Linked DNA regions of Homo sapiens: region 2 is linked to region 1. The links come from fine-mapping of genetic effects on gene expression. A gene starts in region 1. The other region holds a variant in brackets. All regions are shown on one strand. Distances are between the middles of the regions.

Region 1 (8,000 bases):
CATGTGCCTGCTCCCACCGCGCCCCCTCCACAGCACCCTCTGGCTCCGGATGGGCCATCATGAAAGCTTGAGCGGCCCAGATCAGGTCCTCTTCCCGAACTCCTGGGACGGGCACGGTGGGGATGCCAGCGATCATCATGGCGAGGGTGAGGATGCAGATATCAGGCTGGGAGCTGGCCTCCTTCCCCACTGCCTCAGAGGGTACCGGTAGAACCCGTGGTGACAGCCCACACAGCATCAGGGGCCTAGGCCTGCTGGGGCCACCCAGGTCAGGGGCTCTGCTTCTGGAGTAGCCATTGTCCCAGCCCAAGCTCTCCAGCTGCCTCACATGCGGGAATTTGTGGCAGTTTCGGCTGTATTCCTTCCGTAGTGTCTCCCAGCTAGTCCCCCCAGGGCAGCCCCTGGCTTGTGGCATTGCCAGGGCTGGGCCCCAGGCCTGGGCAGCAGGTGCCACCTGCTCAGCTTTCTGGCTCAGTGGGCCTGTTCCACCAGAGGCCACCACCACTGGCTCTACAGGACTACAGAGGCCAAGGGACAAGCCTGGAGAAGCAGCCCCACCTGCAGAGACAGGAATGAAATGGAACGTTATTCTCAGTTCTTTGAGGAGGGGGCCCTGAGGGGCAGGGCATGGGAGCAGAGCTTGGGGGCGTAACTAAGACCAGCCCCAGCGGACTGTCTAGAGGTTGGGAACTAGGTGTTACTCATATCCACACTCCCAGTCCCCAACACGGAGTAGGTGATGGAGAAGCGTTTGTTGAATTAATGAATAGTGAGCAAGCGGGTAGTTATTGATTGGCAAGGATGTTTGGAATGGCTTTTCTTCTAAAAGAATTGATTCTAGGGCCAGCCCCCAAATGCCCAGCAGAACCGCCACCTCCCCAGAGCCAGAAAGCAACTTCTCAGGGGAAGCTGCCGCACTCCCTCCAATTGCAGGTGCCCCCCGCTCACCTTGGCCGGAAGGCAGAGGACCTGGATGAGTTTGTGGAGTCCTGAAGTAGGACATGGCTTCCCCAAAGCCCCGGTTTGTGAGGGAATAGTGATCTGCCGCCTGTCCTCCCTTCTTCACCCTTCTAGAATGTCACCTCATAGACCCTCCCCTTCACACTTGGAATCCACTTTACAGCGTTGACCTATTCATTCTAGAACCTGGACATGACAATAGGATGAGGTTAAAAGAGCACCAGACCAGGAGCTGGGTGTTCTAGGTTCTTGCCCTAACCTTGAACGAGTCACCCAGATAGTTTTGTTCCTTGATATCCTTATCTGTAAAGTGTGTCTGATGACTGCCCACTACCTCATTAGGAGTTTTGAGGATGAAATGAGATCATTTGTATGGAAGCAGATGACCAGAGATGGAAACACAGGAGCCAAGTGCTTCGTGCCTTGTAGAGTAAGACTTCGGGTCAGACCCAGTATTGGTATTTTTCTTTTTCTTTTTTTGAGACAGAGTCTCACTTTGTCGCCATGACTGGAAGGCTGGAGTGCAGGAGCAAGACCTCAGCTCACTGCAACCTCTGCCTCCTGGGTTCATGCAATTCTCCTGCCTCAGCCTCCCGAGTAGCTGGGACTACAGGAACCTGCCACCACACCTGGCTAACTTTTGTATTTTTAGTAGAGACAGGGTTTCACCATGTTGGCCAGGCTGGTCTCAAACTCCTGACCTCAAGTGATCTGCCCACCTCGGCCTCCCAAAGTGCTGGGATTACAGGCCAGGTATTGGTATTTTTCAAAATTCCTCAAGTGATTATAATATATGACAAAGTTGGAACCTTTTTTCTAGGGACATACTTCTCAACCCTGGCTGTACATGAGAATCTCTTGAGAAGCTTTTACAAAACACAATGTCTAGGCCTAATTTCCCAACAAATCAAATACGAATCCCTAGGGATGGGATGTGGGACACCAGCACTCTTTACATATCCTAAGATGACTCTAACAAGCAGCCAGCCTAGGGACCCCTGCTCTTTTGCTCCGACCTGCTGACCTGCAGTGATTCTAAACGAAGTGACTCTCATAGGCTGTAGGGGCAAGGAGACCTTCCAGTGATCAAGATGTCAGCATCGGCTGTTTATTTCTGGTCTTGGCTGGCAGCAATGTGGCCAACTTCGGACCAGCCAGCCACAGGTCTGGGGCTCCAGGATGCAGCTGTGCTCTGGTGCACTGTGGGTCTTCACTCATACTTGCAGAAATCCTTAAGTTCTTTGGGCAGGTGGAGCCCATCAATGGCCAGCCGGTGCACCATGCTCCTTTGTATCACTAGGCGGCACAGAGTCTGCAGGGATGGCACTGTGGGAAGAAGACTGTGAAAGGCAAACTGAACTGGAGGGTGGGTCTGAGGCCAAGATCCAGAAGGTCTAGGTCATGGTCCCCACTTTGTCATTAAATGTGGGCAAGTCCTTACTGCTCTCTGGGCCCAGCCTGCTTCATGGGGCTGAGAGAAGCACCTCTTCCTGAGAGCTGCCACAAAGCTGCAGCCCTGTTTATATCATAACACTTAGCACAATCCCTTCCCCATTCACTTAGCAGCTTCTGGGGGCAGGGGTAGTGTCTGATTTGCCTGTGCAACTGAAGCCTCCAGCACAGGCCTGGCACAAAGAGGGTTCTGGTGCATTGAGTTCATGAAATGTGATGAGAGGTATAACTGCAATGCTTACCAGGGCTATAATGAATCATACTCAGCATTAAGAAGCTCTCAGTCTGGGGTTTGTTATGCCTCGAAGCCAATAGCCAATATGCCCAAGTCTATGAGCATGTTTCTTTCTTTTCTTTCTTTTTTTTTTTTTATTTAAAGAGAGAGGGTCTTGCTCTGTCACCCAGGCTGAAGTGCAGTGCTCAGTGAACTGCAGCCTTCAATTCTTGGGCTCAAGCGATCCTCCTGCCTTAGCCTCCCAAATAGCTGGGACTACAGGCATGCACCACCATGCCCAGATAATTATTTAATTTTTTGTACAGATGGGGTCTCACTTTGTTGCCCAGGCTTGAGCTAGCTAGCTTGCTTGCTTGCTTGCTTTCTCTCTCTTCCTCTCTCTCTCTCTTTCTTTTTTTTTTCAGAGTCTTGCTCTGTTGCCTAGGCTGGAGTGCACTGGTGAGATCTCGGCTCATTGCAACCTCCACCTCTCGGGTTCAAGTGACTCTCCTGCCTCAGCCTTCTGAATAGCTGGGATTATTGGCACATGCCACCACACCCAGCTACTTTTTGTATTTTTAGTAGAGACAGGCTTTCACCATGTTGGCCAGGCTGGTCTCGAACTCCTGGCCTCAAGTGATCTGCCTGCCTCCCCCTCCCAAAGTGCTGGGATTACAGGTGTGAGCCACTGTGCCCGGCCAAGCATGTTTCTAAGAAAAGGGCAAACAATTCTCAAAGAGGCCCCTAATATCTAAAATTGGTTTAGAATCCCTGCCCTAGGTGAATACAGGAAACACTATCAAAACTAAAAGGGAACTTGTAGGGCATCTTAATCAATCAACCAAGATAGGTACCAAGGCCCAAAACCATGTAGAGGCTTGTGCAAGATCACAAGCAGAGGTGCAATTTGAAGCTAGATTCTCCCACTCTTAAACTAGTGCCGGACAGACGAAGGCCTAGCACATGGGCTACGGAGCCCTAGTAGATTCCAGTCCCCACACTGAGCCAGGAGGGGTCGCTGCCCAGGGATACCTACAGCCATACTCGAGCTGGACAAGGCGCACGCTCTTTGTGGAAGCAAACACGTCCACCACCGCGTAGAGGGGCTGCGCAGCTGGCAGTCCCCGGGCGCTCGGGCCCATGTCCTCGCCGTTGATGATGATGTGCATGTCGGCCGTGCCATCGGGGCGCGGGCAAAAGAGGACACCCAGGCGGCTACGGCGCGCGGTCGGAGGCAGCACGTTCAGCTCATAGAGCTGGTCCAAGAGATGGCTGTAGAGCCCTGGCCGGCTGCGGCCCACCAGGCGGTCCCGGGGAATGCGAAACTGCTCAATGCGCAGATATGGTTCCACGAGGAGGGTTGGAGGTCGGCTGGGGGCCGCTGCCTCCGCCTCCGGGCGGCCCTCCCGGGGCACGCGGTTGTGGTGGCGCGTGATGGCGAAGACCCAGGTGTGGCCCAGGTTGACCAGATCGGGCAGAGAAAACTCGGGAACGGGGGCCAGACTGGCGGGGTCCAGCGCGGTCAGACCGAGACGCAGATGTCCGCACCAGCCCAGCTCTTTCTCCTCGATCTCGACCAGGAAGACCTGGCCCGGGGCCAGCGGCTCGCGGCTGAAGCACACGCCGTGGGCGAAGCTCTCCACGCGTGTGGCCCGCGTCCCAGAGGGGTCCACGCGGATGTTGGCACCGTGCACCCGATGGAAGCGGGTGGGAGGGGGCTCCGGGCGCTCGAGTCCCCAGAGTGCACCCGAATCCACGGGCTCGGAGGCAGCAGCCATCTCTCGGCCATAGGGCAGGCCAGCTGGCGCCGGGGGCTATTTTGGGCGGCGGGCAATGATGGTGACCGCAAGGCGACCTTGTAAGGCATTTCCCCCCTGACTCCCTTCCCCGAGCCTCTGCCCGGGGGTCCTAGCGCCGCTTTCTCAGCCATCCCGCCTACAACTTAGCCGTCCACAACAGGATCATCTGATCGCGTGCGCCCGGGCTACGATCTGCGAGGCCCGCGGACCTTGACCCGGCATTGACCGCCACCGCCCCCCAGGTCCGTAGGGACCAAAGAAGGGGCGGGAGGAAGACTGTCACGTGGCGCCGGAGTTCACGTGACTCGTACACATGACTTCCAGTCCCCGGGCGCCTCCTGGAGAGCAAGGACGCGGGGGAGCAGAGGTGAGCTGGCACCGGAGGCTGGAGGGGATCCCCGAGCCCGGGATCGGTGCGCGGCAGAGGAGGCTCGCGGGTGGGAGCTGGCGCTGGGGCCGGGGCTTCCCTCGCGGAGGCGCCGCCAGCAACTCCCCGGGGGCTGCTGCACGGAAGCGCTGAGGAGCGAGTCAACAGCCCCTCTGCTGCCTCCCGTAGATGATCCGAGCCGCGCCGCCGCCGCTGTTCCTGCTGCTGCTGCTGCTGCTGCTGCTAGTGTCCTGGGCGTCCCGAGGCGAGGCAGCCCCCGACCAGGACGAGATCCAGCGCCTCCCCGGGCTGGCCAAGCAGCCGTCTTTCCGCCAGTACTCCGGCTACCTCAAAGGCTCCGGCTCCAAGCACCTCCACTACTGGTCTGCCGCCCTGCCTTCTGGGCGGGATTGGGAGAAGAGATGACGGATGAGGGATGGGGGGTAGTTCTGCAGACCCCTGAGGATGCCTGGGAGCCGGGAGGGCTGGAAAGGGCCCCTCCAACTGCGCCAACCCTGCCCTGACCCCCCTCCCAGGTTTGTGGAGTCCCAGAAGGATCCCGAGAACAGCCCTGTGGTGCTTTGGCTCAATGGGGGTCCCGGCTGCAGCTCACTAGATGGGCTCCTCACAGAGCATGGCCCCTTCCTGGTGAGTGGACAGCAGGGGGAAAGCACAGTTCCCAAAGTAAAAGGCTGGGGAAAGCGAGAGAGGGGCTTTGTGATTTTCCAAAAAGTTTCCTTCCTTCTAAGCCTCGGGATTTTCCTCTATGCCATTGGCTTTGCTGCCTGTACCTCTCAGAGGTTTTACCCACATGTAAAGTGCCTCTCATGGTGGCCCTTTCCCTCCACCCAGCTGGCCCTTGGGACTTACTCAGCCATCTCTTTCCTCCTCAGGTCCAGCCAGATGGTGTCACCCTGGAGTACAACCCCTATTCTTGGAATCTGGTATAGCTGGAGCTGTGGGTGTGTCTGGGCACTTGGATGGGGTGGCATTTAGCTAATTTTTCCCTCCCCTCTAGATTGCCAATGTGTTATACCTGGAGTCCCCAGCTGGGGTGGGCTTCTCCTACTCCGATGACAAGTTTTATGCAACTAATGACACTGAGGTGAGTCTGGTGCCTGCCCATCTGCCCCAGGCTCCCCGGTCCTCCATCCATGGCATGATGCTGGGAGAGAGAGCATGGCCTTGGAGTCTACTTTTCGCTCTGTCATATGCTATTGTGGTATGGTGGCCAGTCACTTCCTCTTGCACAAATAGGGTGGGTTAATGTCATTATCTCTGAAGTTCTTTCCAGTTCAAATACCAAAGCTTCCTGATTCCCTCTGTCTTGCTCTGCCATCCCCAGGTCGCCCAGAGCAATTTTGAGGCCCTTCAAGATTTCTTCCGCCTCTTTCCGGAGTACAAGAACAACAAACTTTTCCTGACCGGGGAGAGCTATGCTGGCATCTACATCCCCACCCTGGCCGTGCTGGTCATGCAGGATCCCAGCATGAACCTTCAGGTGCAGGGTAGCTGCAGGAGGGAAGGGAGGTAGCTTGAGGCTGTGGCCTTACAGTTAGCAAGGTCAGACTGACTGGTCAATGTCCCCATCCAACCCAGCTTCCTGCATAACCTCCCCACCACCGGCTGCCCTAGGTCTGTCTGTGTGCCTCCCACACAGGAAACTCACCTGTCAGGCTGCCAGCTCTGTGTTTTGCATTGAGTGGCCTCTCATACCCACCGGCCTACATAAACCACCCTGGGTTTCAGCTTCCGGATTGCTGAAGGTCTGGGTGGTAGGGTGAGGGAGGCTCTTCCTTTTTGCCCTCCACATGAGCTGAGCACCCTGGGTGTTTCACAGGGGCTGGCTGTGGGCAATGGACTCTCCTCCTATGAGCAGAATGACAACTCCCTGGTCTACTTTGCCTACTACCATGGCCTTCTGGGGAACAGGTATGGGATAGGGCAGTTGGGCAATCTCTGGGGTGAGGCAGGTCACATGATCTCAGGTCTGTCCTCCAGGCACATGATATGACAGGCCCAGCCCAGGTTTATGAGCAGCAGGTGGGTTGCAGAAAGAACCTAGTGCTGAAAGGCCAAAGAATAGAGATCAGTTTTTCTTTCTTTCTTTTTTTTTTTTTTGAGACAGATTCTTACTTTGTCACCCAGGCTGGAGTGCAGTGGCACGATCTTAGCTCACTGCAACCTCCACCTCCCAGGTTCAAGCAATTCTCATGCCTCAGACTCCCAGGCAGCTGGGACTACAGGCGCGTACCACCACACCTGCCTAATTTTTTGTATTTTTAGTAGAGATGGGGTTTTGCTGTGTTGGCCAGGCTGGACTTGAACTCCTGGCCTCAAATGATCTTCCCAAAGTGCTGGGATTACAGGCATGAGCTACAGCGCCCAGCCAGAAATCAGATTTTAAAGGAACTAAGGAGGCCTGTCTGTATGACCCTGGGGCACCTCTTTGGGAGCTAGCTTAGATGACATACAGACCACACCCTGTGATATCTTTCCCAGTCTCCTAGGGTCAGGGAGGTTGGTGGGAGGTGGGGGGTATGCTCGCCTCCTCTGCCTTCCTCTTCCCACCAGCAGCTGATGCGCTTTTCACTCTCATCTCCTACAGGCTTTGGTCTTCTCTCCAGACCCACTGCTGCTCTCAAAACAAGTGTAACTTCTATGACAACAAAGACCTGGAATGCGTGACCAATGTGAGGTTCTGCCATCACTTTGCATGAGCTCTCCCATCCCTAATCCTGAGAACAGGACCACATTCCCTCCTTGGGGACTCCTTGTTCTCCGTCCCTCATTGCTTTCTTGCACCTTTAAGCAATTTAGTGTTCTCTGGGACATGTGTCTAAGTGTGTATTCCCACCACCACCTCCTATGGTGGCAAATCCCATAACCTCCGTGAGGAGAAAGGACTTCTTCACATTTATCAAACACCTGCAACGTGGCAGGCACTGTGCTGAACTGTGTCTATGTAGATTATTTAAGCTTCAAGATTCCCCCTCAAATGAGATCATACTACCCACATTTTCCAGATAAGGAAACTGAGGGCTATGAATTTTGAAATCACTGTCTGAAGTCACAGTGTTGGGAGGCAGTGATGCTAGGATTTGGACCCAGGTCTGGGAAGATTCCTGCCACTGAGCCTCAGTTTCCCTACCTGTGAAAAAAAGTGGGTGAAGAGGTGAAATCCAAGAGCAGTAAATCTTGGGACAAC
Region 2 (16,509 bases), 35 kb after region 1:
TCATGCCTGTAATCCCAGCACTTTGGGAGGCTGAGGCAGGTGGATCACCTGAGTTCAGGAGTTCCAGACCAGCTTGACCAAAACAGTGAAACCCCATCTCTACTAAAATTACAAAATTAGCCGGGTGTGGAAGCAGGTGCCTATAATCCCAGCTACTTGGGAGGCTGAGGCAGGAGAATCGCTTGAACCCAGGAGGTGGAGGTTGCAGTGAGCTGAGATCGCACCATTGCACTCCAGCCTGGGCAACAAGAGTGAAACTCTGTCTCTAAATAAATAAATAAATACAGCCTTGACCTGGGCTGGTGGAGGAGAAGGTGCAGTCACTGGCCCTGAATCCAGGGCCTTCCCCACTCAGCCTGTCCCTCTTTAATACATTGATTTCCCTTTTCCTCTAAAACATATGGTGCACACAACCCTCAAACGTTAAGAGTGATGTCAGCAGATGTGCAGCGTGGGATGGGCTCTGGCAGCCTCCTCGAGTGCTCATCACCGGGCTTGAGACATGGAGAGAGCCAAATCCCCAAATCCCTTCCCACTTTCACTCCTGGTTTTGTTGTTGTTTGTCTTTTGAGGCAGAGTCTGGCTCTGCCTATTAAGCTGGAGTGCGGAGGCACAATCTTGGCTCACTGCAGTCTTGACCTCCTGGGCTCAAGCAATCCTCCCACCTCAGCCTCCTGAGTAGCTGGGACTATAGGCATGCACCACCACGGCTGATTAATGTTTGTAATTTTTTTTTTTTGTAGAGATGAGGTCTCACTGTGTTACTCAGGCTGGTCTCCATCTCCTGGCCTCAAGGAATCCTCCCACCTCGGCCTCTGAAAGTGCTGGGATTACAGGCATGAGCCACTGCGCCCGGCCTCATCCCTGGCTTTGAAGAGAGAAGGAGAGGCTTCCCAGCACTCAGAGGGACAGGAAGGAAGTGCCTTTCCAGCCTCAGTTGTGTACCCAGCACAGCAATACTGGTAAGAAATCAAGATAGCAAAGTCCTGCTTCTGCCTTTTTCTAGAACAGATGTCAGCAAGCTGTTCCTGTAAAGGAATCAGGATAGCAAAGTCCTGCTTCTGCCTTTTTCTAGAACAAATGTCAGCAAGCTGTTCCTGAAAAGGCCAAAGTGTACATATTTTAGGCTTTCCACACCCTGTGGTCTCTATCGCAGCTGCTCAGCCCTACACTTTAGCATGAAAGCAGCCATAAACAATATCTAACGAACAGGCTGGGAGCTGGAGTTAGCACACAGGCCATAGTTTACCAACCCCTGTTCCAGAGGAAATGAAAAATCTCTTTCTGGGCTAGGCATGGTGGCTCATGCCTATAATCTCAGTACTTTGGGAGGCTGAGGCAGGAGGATTGCTTAAGCCCAGGAGCTCGAGGCTGTAGTGAGCTATGATTGTGCCACTGAACTCCAGTCTGGGTGACACAGCAAGATCCTGTCTCTAAAAAAAAAAAACACTTTTTGAACCTCAGTTTCCACATCTGTAAAATGGGATGATCTAGTACTTACCTACCTCCCTGGGTGGCAGTGAGGATTTAAAGTGATAAAGTATACAAAGTGTGGAACCTAGTACTTGGTGGCGGGGTGGGGCGCTCTCACTTTGTTGCCCAGGCTGGTCTAGAATTCCTGGGCTCGAGCGATCCTCTCGCCTTGGCCTTTCAAAGTTCTGGGATTACAGGCATGAGTCACTGTGCCTGGCCTGATTATTAGTATTAATAGTTGTCATAGTTGCTTAACAAACAGAAAGTGCTTTTTTGAGACAGGGTCTCACTCTGTTACCCAGGCTGGAAGGCAGTGGCACGATCATGGCTCACTGCAGCCTCATCCTCCCTGGGCTCAGGTAATCCTCCCATCTCAGCCTCCCGAGTAGCTGGAACTATAGGCATGTACCACCATGCTCAGCTAACTTTTAAAATTTTTTTGTAGAGATAGAATCTCACTGTGTAGACCAAGCTGATCTCAAACTCCTGGCCTCAAGCGATCTGCCTGCCTCGGCCTCCCTAAGTGTTGGGATTACACGCGTGAACCACCACACTTGGCCAGAAAGTGCTTCCACATATTAACTCACTTACACTTCATAACATCCTACAAGATAGGTATCCTCACCCCCAGTTTACAGATAAGGAAACTGAGGCCCAGCAGTTATAAGCTCAAGTCAGTCTGGCCCCAGAGCCTATGCTTGTAACTAGGTTTCTCTCTCTGTCTCTCTCTTTTTCATTATCCCATGTAACTCTCACAGCAGTGCCTTGAGATAGCTATTATTGGCCCTGTTTTGCAGATTTGGAAACTGAGGTTCAGTACGAGGAAATAACTGGTCCAAGGAAGTAAACACGGGCTCCACTGACCACAGGAGGCCAAGCTGGATTGCTGCCCAACATGTCAACATGCACTGCTCTGGCCCCCTCCTCCCTCGCTGTGCCTCCAGCTGTGTTTTCTTTGGATCTCTGCATGGCTTGGAGAAGCTGCGTCAGCCCATCTCCTCTCCTGCCCAGTCCCCACCCCCAACGCCCACCCCAGCTACCCCTCAGGGAGTGACCCCCTTCTCCTCACTCTGCCTGAGCATATGAGCACTGCAGCTCATGCGCCTGTGTTGGTCAGCATGGGTGCACCTGGGGACATGTGACAGGGGACCCAGCTGGAATGAGAGGAGGATTATCTGAGGAGGACAAATCTCAGGCCAGGAAGACCCCGATTACATCTCTCCAGACAGGCGAAATGATCATCTGTTTCCAGAATGCAACTGGACAAAACAGTCCGCGTGAGGGCTGGACATTTACCAAATGGGTAAAAGGAATCTAAAAGGGCTGGGGCTTGCTGAGTTCAGCCAGGCCAAAGCTGTGGACTGACTTTCCGTGATTTCTAAAGCTGGGAGATCTGTTGTTTTCTTCTTTCTTTCCCATTTCCTCCTTGAAGGCCAGTCCATTTTCTGTGTGAAGAACAGGCCACTTGGTGTCTGAAGTCACCTCCAGATTAGAAACTCAAGGATTCTAAGGTTCCTTATGAGGTGTTGCTTTCCCTGGGTCCTCGGTCCTAGGGCATTGTATCCCCACACCTGGTGCCTCTCCATCAGGGCTCGGATGTCAGCCTTGGGCAGCTCACTCTCTCTCTGACTTCCCTTTTCTTTTCTTCTTCATATCCCACCCTTCTTCCCAGTTTCTATGCCTCTGTCAGTCTGCTAGCTGACTCTGACTCATGGGGACCTCTTTCTGTGGTCCTCTAAGCCTCCTAACCGTCTGTGCTTTCCTTATACTCCACGTGGGCTTTCCAGCCTCTACTTGTTTTGAGGAAGAGGTGGAGGATCCATAGCAGCTCTGTCTAGATGTTTGGATTTCATAAGCCAGTCACAACATTTCAAAGTAAGTGAAGGGAGGGGGCCCCAAAGGAAGGGATTTTTTCCTTTGATAATAAGGATAGGCCACCATCTTCAGCCTAAGCTTGTCCCTTTTCTGCAGGGCTTGCTGAAATGTTGCAAGAAGTGGTCAACATAATGCAACTCGAATTTTTCCAGGTGTCCTAATACTGCAGGAGTCCCCCGCATAACCCAGGCTTTGGTCTAACAAGATTGCCAACCCCTAGCCAGGAATCATGAGGATGTCACCGCCCTCTGGCCTTCTTCCTCTCTTCCACCCAGCTAGATCCATATTTTAGCTCCCCCCCAACCCTAGCAAGTACCAAATCCTGCTCCTTTTCCAAGCTTCCCCATCACAGGTCATGGCACCAGCTTTATGCAGTGCTCAAGTCAAAAATATAGGAGTCATCCTTGACTTCCTTTTTTTGTTATACCCCACATCAGCAAATCCCGGTGTCTCTAACTCCAAAAGACGCCTCACCTTATGCCTGTAATCAAAGCACTTTGGGAGGCTGAGGTGGGAGGATCACTTGAGCCCAGGGGTTCAAGACCAGCCTGAGCAACATAGTGAGACTTTGTCTCTACAAAAAATAATTAGCCAGGTGTGGTAGCATGCGCCAATAGTCCCAACTACTTGGGAGGCTGAGGTGGGAAGATCGCTTGAGTCCAGGAGGTCAAGGCTGCAGTGAGCTGTGATTGCGCCACTGCATTCCCGCCTGGGCAACAGAGCGAGACTCTGCCTCGAAAAAAAAAAAAGATGCCCCACATCTATACAATTCTCTCTATCAGCACCAACACCACTTCAAGCCATTTTCATTGGTTACCGGGACAACCTGCCTTATCTCCCTGTCTCACCATTTCTCCTGTAGGTCTAGCCTCTCTACATCAATCTAAGTGATATTTTTAAAAATGGGAATCATAGAATTTTTCTATCCTGCTCAACATCCTCCCCATCACACACAAAATAAAACCCAGACTCTGGCCACGACCTCTGGAAACACTGCAGGTGAACTAGCTCCTGCCTACCTTCCTCTCCAAGCCCATCTTCTACCACTGTTGGGAACACACCAAGTGCCTTCAGCCTCAGACTTTCCTTAATTCTTTTCTCCACCAGACACATCATCCCACACACATACCCATGCAGAGTTACTCAGATCCCTACTCAAATGTCACCCCCACAGAAGAGGCCCCCTCTGTGTCATTACCTGTCATTCTGTTTGTTTAATTCTTTATTGCCTGTTTCTTCCAGTAGACTGCAAGCTCCCCAGGGCGGGGACAGGAGCCTGCCACTCTTATTCATGGCCATATGTCCAGTGCCCAGCACAGGGTCTGGCACACAGAAAATGCTCAATAGATGTTTGTTGAATTCAAGATGGCCGGGCACGGTGGCTCATGCCTGTAATCTCAGCACTTTGGGAGGTCGAGGCAGACAGATCACGAGGTCAGGAGTTCGAGACCAGCCTGGCCAAAATGGTGAAACTCCGTCTCTACTAAAAATACAAAAATTAGCCGGGCGTGGTGGCACACACCTGTAGTCCCAGCTACTTGGAAGGCTGAGGCAGAAGAATCACTTGAACCTGGGAGGCAGAGGTTGCAGTGAGCTGAGATCACACCACTGCACTCCCGCCTGGGCAAGAGAGCGAAACTCCATCTCAGGAAAAAAAAAAAAAAGATGTTTGTTGAATTCAAGATGGGGTGTTATTATCATCCCTAGACCCTTCAGAAGGAGCAGCTTTTATGGTGCACTCTGTAGCCCTGATCTAATCCCCGGCTGAGCCTCTAAGCTCTATGCTTTCTGCTGGTACCACCCATTTCCTTGCATTTAGCCGGGGTTATCTGGAGCTGGTCTGCAGCCAAGAATGTCATACTTTCCTAATCTCCCCAGAGGCCTGAGAGACGCCTAAGGTCATGGGAGGTGCCCCCACAGGATCTCAGTGGGCTGAGCAGAAATCGGGACTCCTTGACCTAACCCACCCCCAGGCCCCTTCTACCTCACCTTCCAGCAGGCTCACGCCTGTAATCCCAACACTTTGGGAGGCCATGGTGGGCGAATCACCTGAGGTCAGGAGGAGTTCGAGACTAGCCTGGCCAACATGGTGAAACCCCAACTCTACCAAAAATAAAAACATTAGCTGGGTATGGTCGTGGGCACCTGTAATTCCAGCTACTCAGGAGGCTGAGGCAGGAGAATTGCTTGAACCCAGGAGACAGAGGTTGCAGTGAGCCAAGATCGCACCACTGCACTCCAGCCTGGGCGACAGAGCAGGACTCCATCTCAAAAAAAAAAAAAAGTTGAACACAAATTTACCATACAGCAATTTCGCTCCTAAGGGTCTACCCACAGAAAAGGAAAATGAATGCATTTGTACATGAATGTTGATAGTAGTGTTATTCGTAATAGCCAAAAGGTGGAAACAATTCAACTATCAATTGGTAAACAAATAAAATATGGTATATCTGTATAATGCAACACTATTCAGCAATAAAAAAAGAATCAACTACTGATATATGCTTCAAAATGGATGAAGCTCAAAAACATAATGCAAAGTGAAAGATGCAAGCTGCAAAAGACTACATCTGTGTGATTCTATTTATATGAAATGTTCAGAAAAGGCAGCTCTATAGGGACAGAAAGCAGGCCAGTGGTTGCTGGGGGCTGATGGTGGGAACAGGAACTGACTGCAAACAAGCCCAAGAAATCTTTTAGGGTAATGGAAATGTTCTAAAACAGAACTGTGTTGACAATTGTATAACTCTATACATTTACTTAAAACAAATTTTATTTATTTATTTATTTATTCATTCATTTTTGAGACAGAGTCTCTCTCCTTCCCCCAGGCTGAAGTGCAATGGTGCAATCTCGGCTCACTGCAACCTCCGCCTCCTGAGTTCAAGCGATTCTCCTGTCTCAGCCTCCCCAGTAGCTGGGATTACAGGTGCCTACCACCACACCTGGCTAATTTTTGTATTTTTAGTAGAGACAGGGTTTCACCACGTTGGCCAGGCTGGTCTCGAACTCCTCACCTCCACCCTCCTCAGCCTCCCAAAGTGCTGGGATTACAGGCGTGAGCTACCGTGCCCGGCCTATTCATTTACTTATTATTATTATTTTTAGTAGAGACAAGGTCTTGTCTGGGTTGGTCTCTAGCTCCTGGGCTCAAGCAGTCCTCCTGCCTCAGCCTCCCAAAGTGCTGAGATTATAGGTGTAAGCCACTGTGCCCGGCCAGAATTGTATATGTATTTATTTATTTATTTATTTTTGAGACGGAATCTCTCCCAGGTTGGAGTGCAGTGGCATGATCTCAGCTCACTGCAACCTCCACCTCCCTGGTTCAACGATTCTCCTGCCTCAGCCTCCCAAGTATCTGGGATTACAGGCGCCCACCACCACGCCGAGCTAATTTTTGTATTTTTTTTTTTTTGAGACTGAGTTTTGCCGTTGTTGCCCAGGCTAGAGTGCAATGCGTGACCTCAGCTCACTGCAACCTCCGCCTCTCAGGTTCAAGGGATTCTCCTGCCTCAGCCTCCCAAGTAGCTGGGATTACAGGCATACACCACTGAGCCTGGCTAATTTTGTATTTTTAGTAGAGATGGCATTTCGCCATGTTGGTCAGGCTGGTCTTGAACTCCTGACCTCAGGCGATCCGCCTGCCGTGGCTTCCCAAAGTGCTGGGATCACAGGCGTGATAGAATTGTATACTGAAAACAAGTGAGTCTTGTAGTCTGTAAATTATACCCTAATAAAGCTGTTAAAAACATTTTCCTAGCTCGGGTTGAGATCTCTGGGTTAGATGTGTCCTGGGAACCCAGCTGGGACCCAGGCTGGGTGGGGTGTCCTCCTTTCTCTCCTTTCTAAGTCAGTTTTCTGTGATCTCAGACTTTCAGGAAGCTACCAGCTGTCGCTCTTGTTTCTTTTTTGAAGAAGTCTGGAATTCTGCAGACTCAGCTCATATGGGAGTAAACATCCTGGCTCTTGGCCACTCTGACTGAAGTGCAAAAATGAGCATCACGGCCGGGCACGGTGGCTCACGCCTGTAATCTCAGCACTTTAGAAGGCCGAGGCAGGCGGATCATGATGTCTGGACATTGATACTGTCCTTGCCAACATGATGAAACCCCATCTCTACTAAACATACAAAAATTAGCTGGGCATGGTGGCATGTGCCTGTAATTCCAGCTACTCAGGAGGCTGAGGTAGGAGAATCGCTTGAACCAGGGAGTTGGAGGTTGTAGTGAGCCGAGATCGCGCCACTGAACTCCAGCCTGGCGATAGAGCAAGACTGTCTTAAAAAAAAAAAGCGCATCACAGGGAATGGGTGGGAGAGTGGAGGGGACCACCACAGGTGGCCCACCCCTATCTTGATATGACCAAACGCCGCCTGGGATGCTGAGCACTAACCCAGAGCAAGGACTGAATTTGGACTCCAGGGTCCTGGTAGGACCTGCACCTCCCTTGCTCCCTGGCTGTGCTCAGGTTGACCAGCTCTCCAAACACACCCTCCCTTTCTATACCTCCAGGCCTTGGCACACGCTGTGCCCTCCCCTTTTCCTTGCCTACCTGGAAAATCTATTTTTCCAATAAGAATCTGTTCATTGTCATCTCCTCTGAAGCTTTCTCCTTTGTGTGCCCACCACCCCCAGCCCCTGCCATCCCTCCAGAGCCCTCATCTCCCTGTGGCAGAGGGTTCATGTATATGTCTGCCTCCCACACTGCTCTGTGGGCTCCCTAAGACAAACCGTCTGTCCGTCTTACTTATCGCTTATTCTCAAGACTCTAGGACAGGCCAAGGGAAGAAATGGAGGGAATAGTACACCACATCAGACGCTTCCAAGGCCAGGAAGACCAAGGGAGACGCCCCCATTCCTCTCATCTATTCTTGGCCTAAATGGCTTCTCTCATCTGGTCCCAGAATGGCCCAAGAGCCACTCCCTGTGGGAACCACAGTTTGGGGTGGAAGCCTCCTTTCCACAGCTTTCCGGGGGCCAGACCCACTTGCCTTGGAAACTCCCTTTGCATAATTTAAACTGCAGTGTAGGGTCCATGGCCAGCTCAAGCCCAGCCTAGGCGGGGGCAACCTGGAGTGGGATCCAGCTAGAGTCTCCCTTCCCCAGCTGCCAGGACCTCAGGGGATGAAAGTTCCCTCTCAGCAGCTTCTTGCTGCAGTGGCAGAGAACAAGGGGGTTAAGCTATGTGGCAACCTGAGCTGGTTGTTTATGTTTCTGCTTTAGTGTGGAGGCTTGGCTTTGTCCGGAGTTGAGGCAGGGGTCCTCAGAGGCCCTGGCAGCTAGTGACCAGCCAGGAGTGGTGACATAATTTTCAGGGCTAGGGCCGGACATGATGGGTCACGCCTGTAATCCCATCACTTTGGGGTGCCAAGGTGGGTGGATCACCTGAGGTTGGGAGTGTGAGACCAGACTTGCCAACATGGTGAAACCCCATCTCTACTAAAAATCTAAAAATTACCTGGACCCAGTGGCACGTGCCTGTAGTCCCAGCTACTGGGGAGGCTGAGGCAAGAGAATTGCTTGAACCTGGGAGGGGGAGGTTGCAGCGAGCCGAGATTGCACCACTGCACTCCAGCCTGGGTGACAGAGCAAGACGCTGTCTCAAAAAACAATATTCAGGGCTCAGGGCAAAATGAAAACGTGGGACTTTTGTTCCAAAATTATTAAGATTTTTAAGATGGTGACAGTAGAACATTAAACCAAACACAGACTTTTCTTTTTTATTATTATTTTTATTTTCATCTTGTTTTTATTTTTTGAGACAGGGTCTAGAGTGCAGTGGTGCAATCATGGCTCACTACAGCCTCGAACTCCTGGACTCAAGCAATCACCCCCTGCGTCAGCCTCCCAAGTAGCTAGGACTGCAGGAGCACCTACTATGCCCAGCTAATTATTACTATTATTATTTTATGTAGAGATGGGGTTCTATGTTGCACATGCTGGTCTTGAACTTTTGGCCACAAGCAATCCTCCCACTTTGGCATCCCAAAGTGCTGGGATTACAGGCATGAGCCTCCACACCCAGTAAGCATGGGCCTTTCTAAATCTATGCAGCCGGCCCTGGTGCCAGGGAGAGGAGCCCAGCTTATTCCAACCACCTCTCTCAGCCCAGACCTATTGTCTACCCAGGCTTCTTAGTTCAGAAAAGTAGCTGGAGAAATGGAAAGCCTTAGGATCTTTGCTCAACTGCTCATCCCTATATTGGGAATAAAAGACTCCAGGCTACTGACAGAGACTCGGCCACAGCAGGCAGCCCACAGGGTGCTGCCTTGGTGTTCCCACCACAGAAACCAGAGCCTGGAATAGAAACGGGGATACCTGGCCAGGCACAGT[GC/G]CTCACGCCTGTAATCCCACCACTTTGGGAGGCCGAGGCAGGCAGATTGCTTGAGGTCAGGAGTTCGAGGCCAGCCTGGTCAACACGGTGAAACCCCCATCTCTACTAAAAACACAAAAATTAGCTGGGCCTGGTGATGTGTGCCTTTAGTCACAGCTACTCCGGAGGCTGAGGCAGGAGAATCGCTTGAATCCTGGAGGCAGAGGTTACAGTGAGCCAAGATCACACCACTGCATTCCAGCCTGTGCGACAGAGGGAGATCCTGTCTCAAAAAATAAATAAATAAACGGGCTACCTGAAAAAGCCACCTAGACTTCAACCCAGAGTGGTCTGTTCATGGTCATCAAATATTTACAGAGGGTCAGGCACAGTACTGAGCATGGGGTTACAAGGGTGAATAAGCCCCAGGCCCCACCCTTAAGCAGCGCACAGCCTAGTGGATGAGGAAAATTGACAAACATTATGAGCTTAGACCATTGTGGTAGTACAAGAGAGGGAACCTGTCCTAGCCGGGGTAGAAGGAAGTTCAGGGAAGGCTGCCTGGTGGAGGCGACATCTAGGCTAAGACTCGAAGGCTGAATTAGGTCAAGAGGGGAAGAAGAGTAAGGGCAAACAGCATATGCAGAGACTCAGGAGCTGGACACGGTGGCTCATGCCTGAAATCCCAACACTTTGGGAGGCTGAAGCAGGAATATTCCTTGAGGCTAGGAGTTTGAGACCAGCCTGGGCAACATAGTGAGATCTTGTCTCTACAAAAAAAAAAAAAATTTAATGAGCCAGGTGTGGTGGTGGTGTGCTCCTGCAGTCCCAGCTACTTAGGGGGCTGAGGTAAGAGGATCACTTGAGCCTAGGAGGTCAAGGCTACAGTGAGCCTGGATACAAATGGAGACTCTGGCTCAAAAACGAACAAAACAAAGAAAGAAATAAACAAAAACACAAAGGATCAGGGTCATGAAAGAACCTGGCACATTTAGGGAAATTATGAAGTAGTTCATGGTAGCTGGGACTGGATCAAGAAGAGATGGTTTGAAGGTCCAGATCATGAATAAAATGAATGTGTGTAAAGTGCTTGACGTTGTGCATAGTAAATATTCTGCCATGGTAGCTCATTATAATTCTGGTTTTGTAGGCCAAATTAAGGGTTTGGGATTTTGTCCCGTAGTCAATGGGGAGACATTCAAGAGCTTTAAGCCCAGAGTGACTTGATGAGATTTGCTATATGGCCAGATCCCCGTGGCTCCTTGGTGGATTATGAACTAGAAGAGAAGCAAGGCTGGAGGATCAGAAGGCCACTTTGAAAATTAACAGGTATGGCCAAGCACAGTGGCTCACACCTGTAATCCTAGCACTTTAGGAAGCTGAGGTGGGAGAATTGCTTCAGCCCAGAAGTTAGAGATAGTCTTGGCAACATACTGACCCCATCTCTAGTTAAAAAAAAAAAGAGAGAGAGAGAGAGACTGGGCATGGTGGCTCACACCTATAATCTTAGCACTTTGGGAGGCAGAGGCAGGTGGATCGCCTGAGGTCAGGAGTTCAAGATCATCCTGGCCAACACGGTGAAACCCTGTCTCTACTAAAAATACAAAAATTAGCCAGGCGTGGTGGCGTGTGCCTGTAATCCCAGCTACCTGGGAGGCTGAGGCAGGAGAATTGCTGGAACTTGGGAGGCGGAGGCTGCAGTGAGCTGATATTGTGCCATGGCACTCCAGCCCATGTGACAGAGCCAGACTCAATAAACAAATAAATAAAGCCAGGCACGGTGGCTGATGCCTGTAATCCCAGCACTTTGGGAGGCCGAGGCGGGCAGATCACTTGAGGTCAGGAGTTCGAGACCAGCCTGGCCAACATGCAGAAACCCTGTCTCTACTGAAAATACAAAAATTAGCCAGGTGTTGTGGCGGGTGCCTGTAATCCCAGCTACTTGGGAGGCTGAGGCAGAAGAATCACTTGAACCCAGGAGGCAGAGGTTGCAGCAAGCTGAGATCGCGCTACTGCACTCCAGCCTGGGCGACAGAGCGAGACTCTGTCTAAAAAAATAAATAAAAATAAAAATAATTTTTAGAAAAGAAATTGAGAGGTATGGCAGGTGGGAGGCTTCACTTATATCCCTTAACAATAGAGTAGATAAACATACAGTGGAAAACAAAAAAACAGCAATGAAAATGAACTCACCACAGCTATATGAAACAACATAAAGGAGTTTTGCAAGTGTATTCTTGTGCAAAAGAAGGCAGACACAAAATAATACTGTATAATTCAATTTACATAAAGTTCAAGGAACAGACAAAACGAAACTACAGTGTTTAGGGACACATTCTCAGGTGGTACAACTCCAAAAGCAAGGAAGCGATTATCACAAAAGTAGTTGGAACACCAATTACCCTGCAGAGGTCTTCTGCTTGACTGTTCAGTACCATGGCATGGGTGATGCTAACCCAGGCTCACTTTTTGATAAATCATTAGGTTTTACATTTATGTTTTGTGCACTTTTCCATGTGTGCTATTCTTTTTTTTTTTTTTTTTCTTGAGACGGAGTCTCGCTCTGTTGCCCAGGCTGGAGTGCAGTGGTCTGATCTCGGCTCATCGAACCTCTGCCTCCCAGGTTCAAGCGATTCTCCTGCCTCAGCCTTCTGAGTAGCTGGGACTATAGGCATGCACCACCACACCCAGCTAATTTTTTTGTATTTTTAGTAGAGACGATGTTTCACTATGTTGGCCAGGCTGGTCTCAAACTCCTGACCTTGTGATCTACCCGCCTCGGCCTCCCAAAGTACTGGGATTACGGGCGTGAGCCACCATGCCCAGTCTATTTTGTATACATTTTTTTGAGACAGGGTCTTGCTCTGTTGCCCAGGCTGGAGTGCAGTGGCATGATCATAGCTCTCTGCAGTTTTGACCGCCTGGGCTCAAGTGATCCTCCCACCTCAGCCCCCTAAGTAGCTGGGACTACAGGTGTGTGCTTCCGCACCTGGCTAATTTTTGTGTTTTTTGTAGAGACGCAGGTTTCACCATGTTGCCCAGGCTGGTCTTAAACTCCTGGACTCAAGCAATCCACCCACCTCCACCTCCCAAAGTGCTAGAATTACAGGCATGAGCCACTGCGCCCAGCTATGTTTAAGACACGGTCTCTGTCGCCCAGGCTGGAGTGCAGCTAACTGCAGCTTCGACGTCCAGGGCTCAAGTGATCCTCCCACCTCAGACTCCCAAGTGGCTGGAATTACAGGCCCATGCCACCATGCCCGGCTAATTTTATTTAAAACATTTTTCAGAGACAGGGTCTTGCTACATTGCCCAGGCTGGTCTCTTAACTCCTGACCTCAAGGTATCCTCCCACTTTGGCCTCCCAAAGTGTTGGTGATTACAGGCATGAGCTACTGTGCCAGTCTATCATACACTATTTTTTTTTTTTTTTTGAGACGGAGTCTTGCTCTGTCACCAGGCTAGAGTGCAGTGGTGCGATCTTGGCTCACTGCAGCTTCTGCCTCCCAGGTTCAAGTGGTGTCCCTGCCTCAGCCTCCGGAGTAGCTGGAACTACAGGCGCGTGCCACCGTGCCCGGCTAATTTTTTGTATTTTAGTAGAGATGGGGTTTCACCATGTTGGTCAGGATGGACTCGATCTCCTGACCTCATGATCTGCCCGCTTAGGCCTCCTGGGATAAAGTGCTGGGATTACAGGTGTGAGCCACCACACCCAGCCCCATATGCTATTCTTAACAATAAAAAGGTTTTAAAAATTTGTCTTTGGGAGGCTGAGGTGGGTGGATCACCTGAGGTCAGGAGTTCGAGACCAGCCTGGCCAACGTGGTGAAATCCCGTCTATACTAAAAATACAAAAAAAAAAAAAAAAAAAAAAAAAAAAACTAGTCGGGCATGGTGGCGGGCACCTGTAATCTCAGCTACTCGGGAGGCTGAGGCAGAAGAATCACTTGAACCTGGGAGGCAGAGGTTGCAGTGAACCGAGATCGCGCCACTGCACGCTAGCCTGGGCGACAGAGCAAGACTCCTTTTCAAAAAACAAAACAAAATTGGGCTGTGTGTGGTGGCTCATGCCTGTAATCCCAGCACTTTGGAAGGCTGAAGCAGGAGGATTGCTTAAGGCAAGGAGTTCAAGGTTACAATGAGCTATGAGTGCACATCAGTCTGGGAGATAGACTGAGACTCTGCTTCTAAAAAAAAGGGGGGTAGGGGTGGGAAACGCCAGCTCTTAAGGTAGTCATTAGAATGGTGAGAAGAGGTTGGGTTTTGTTTTGTTTGAGACGGAGTTTTGCTCCTGTCACCTAGGCTAGAGTGCAATGGTGTGATTTCGGCTCATTGCAACCTCTTCCTCCCGGGTTCAAGCGATTCTCCTGCCTCAGCCTCCTGAGTAGCTGGAATTACAGGCGCTTGCCACCATGCCCAGCTAATTTTTGTATTTTTAGTACAGATGGGCTTTCACCCTGTTGGCCAGGCTGGTCTCAAACTGCTGACCTCAGGTGATCCACCCGCTTTGGCCTCCCAAAGTGCTGGGATTACAGGCGTGAGCCACCGCACCCAGCTGAGAAGAGGCTGGTTTTGACATGCGGAAAGTGAGCAAACGGAGAAGATGAGGCATGTATCAGGTGAAAAGCAGTGCTGAACACTGTGAGATAGAGAAACCTTTAAGATACTTAACTATCCAGGCCGGAGGCGGTGGCTCACGTCTGTAATCCCAGCACTTTGGGAAGCCGAGGTGGGCGGATCACCTGAGGTGGGAAGTTCGAGACCAGCCTGACCAACAGGGAGAAACCCCGTCTCTACTAAAAATACAAAATTAGCCGGGCGTGGTGGCGCATGCCTGTAACACCAGCTACTCAGGAGGCTGAGGCAGGAGAATCGCCTGAACCCTAGAGGCGGAGGTTGCAGTGAGCCGATATTGCACCACTGCACTCCAGCCTGGGCAACAAGAGCGAAACTCCGTCTCAAAAAAAAAAAAAAAAAAAAAGATTGAACTATCCAGGGCCACTGTGTCCACTCAGACCAGTCACATCGCCTGAATCTAGATCCCTTCTTCACAAAACAGGGAGGCCAGAGTGGTTTAATGGAACCAGCCCTGCATTTTGGTGTTGAGAACTCCGGGCTTAAAATCCCAGTTTTGTTACTTGTTGATGGCTGTGTGAACCTGGACAATGACTTCGCCCCTGCCCCTCGCTCCAACCTGTTTGCTCATGTGCAGATTTAGGTAATAATTCACAGAATTCCATGATAAAACAGAAGACTAGGCACTTGGGATGTTTGGTATCTTGGTTATCAATTAAGAGAATCTGAACAATGAATGAGAAAATACTTTGAAAACATAAAAGAATAGATAAAAGGCCGGGCGCGGTGGCTCACGCCTGTAATCCCAGCACTTTGGGGGGCCGAGGCGGGCGGATCATGAGGTCAGGAGTTTGAGACCAGCCTGGCCAACATCGTGAAACACCGTCTCTACTAAAAATACAAATAAAATTAGGTGGGAGTGGTGGCGGGTGCCTATAATCCCAGCTACTTGGGAGGCTGAGGCAGGAGAATTGCTTGAACCCGGGAGGCAGAGGTTGTAGTGAGCCGAGATCGCGCCACTGCAATCCAGCCCGGGCGACAGTGCGAGATTTCGTCTCAAAAAAAAAAAAGGGTAATAATCACTACATGGTTTTTAAACTTTAGTGAAAGCGCGGGCTAGCTGGGGGGCATGAGCATGGAAAACTGGTTATCCCGTAGGTCAAGAGCGACCACGTAGTTTACTGCCCAAAGCAGTACTTTTTTTTGAGACAGGAGTCTCACTCTGTCGCCCAGGCTGGAGTGCAGTGGCGCGATCTCGACTCACTGCAACCTCTGCCTCCCGGGATCATGTGATTCTCCTGCCTCAGCCTCCCGAGTAGCTGGGATTACAGGCGCGCGCCACCAGGCCTGGCTCATGTTTGTAATTTTAGTAGAGACGGGGTTTCGCCGTGTTGGCCAGGCTGGTCTTGAATTCCTGACCTCAGGTGGTCCACCTGCGTCGGCCTCCCAAAGTGCTGGGATTACCGGGGTGAGCCACCACGCCCGGCCCAAAGCAGGGCACTTCTGAAAAAGGAGGCAATATTAGTAATTATGCCAGGGCAGCAGGCATAAATCAAAGCTGGCCCCCCACCCTTCCAGAACTGAGACAGGACCCAGGAGTCTGGTTTCCCATCAGGCCTCTTATCTGAACGAGAAGCTCTGCGAGGGCAGAACTGCTGTGCCTATATAGAGCTGGCTTATTTCTGGAGGGCTCAAATCTACTTGGAGCAATGCTCATGCCACTGTGAGATGATCACGGCTAACCGATTCAGCACTTAGGAAGCGCCAGGTATTGCGCTGAGGACTTCACATGCATCACCTGAGTTAATTCTCACCAAACCTTTATGAGGTAGGCGGATTTATTATCTTCCACTGAGGAAACTAAAATTTAAATTGGTTAACTCCTTCAAGGCCACACATTTTGGGTGGAGGAGCAGGGATTGAAATCAGATGAGGATCATGAACCCTCGTTCTCAATTACTACTCATATCGGTGCCTCCGTTTTTCTTGAGCGTCCGCCTGCCTGCCCCCACGCTGGCGTGCAGCCAGGACCATGGACATCTGAGAGGCTACTCAGCCGGGGTACCTACAGCCCCTGGCTCCACACAAGCGCCGGTCTGACAGCAGGTGGCAAGCTTTTCCTCTTCTCAAGCTAGCACTGGAAGGGATGCTTGCTGGGGAGACCGGAGATGGGTGGAGCTACCACTCGGACGCCTGCAGGCTCCTACCAAAAAGAATCCTGCAGGGAGCCGGATGAGGAGCACCTCACAGCTGCCAGTTCCCTGCCAGGCTACC

Alleles and levels. Alleles are on the strand shown, and positions count from the first base shown. SD is a standard deviation of normalised expression in the study named.
In carriers of allele G in region 2, the expression in lung of the gene that starts at base 4,621 in region 1 tends to be higher than with GC alone (small effect, 0.31 SD a copy in GTEx).

The links.
Region 2: its variant is fine-mapped to the expression of NEURL2 in lung (GTEx, PIP above 0.99). The same link has a PIP of 0.9 or more in spleen.

The regions. Positions count from the first base shown.
Region 1 is chr20:45,886,588-45,894,587 of GRCh38, forward strand. NEURL2 (neuralized E3 ubiquitin protein ligase 2) reads right to left here and starts at 4,621. Exons shown (of 2, transcript NM_080749.4): 1 at 3,663-4,621; 2 at 2,047-2,286. The coding sequence starts at 4,404. The coding sequence ends at 2,171. It overlaps SPATA25 (spermatogenesis associated 25), which reads right to left and starts at 1,035. Exons shown (of 2, transcript NM_080608.4): 1 at 949-1,035; 2 at 1-558. The coding sequence starts at 1,003. It overlaps CTSA (cathepsin A), which reads left to right and starts at 4,748. Exons shown (of 15, transcript NM_000308.4): 1 at 4,748-4,792; 2 at 4,982-5,175; 3 at 5,329-5,440; 4 at 5,686-5,736; 5 at 5,811-5,897; 6 at 6,138-6,293; 7 at 6,633-6,724; 8 at 7,401-7,485. The coding sequence starts at 4,982. RefSeq lists enhancers at 1-246, 247-747, 4,086-4,795, 5,035-5,084 and a silencer at 4,725-4,994.
Region 2 is chr20:45,917,456-45,933,964 of GRCh38, forward strand. It overlaps LOC107985388 (pre-mRNA-splicing factor cwc22-like), which reads right to left. Exons shown (of 1, transcript NR_171669.1): 1 at 16,039-16,509. Among named protein-coding and RNA genes, the nearest start is that of PCIF1, 9.0 kb to the right of the region's middle. RefSeq lists a silencer at 7,115-7,409 and enhancers at 9,855-10,149, 15,154-15,846, 16,129-16,278. The variant GC/G (reference allele first, on the strand shown) is at 9,681.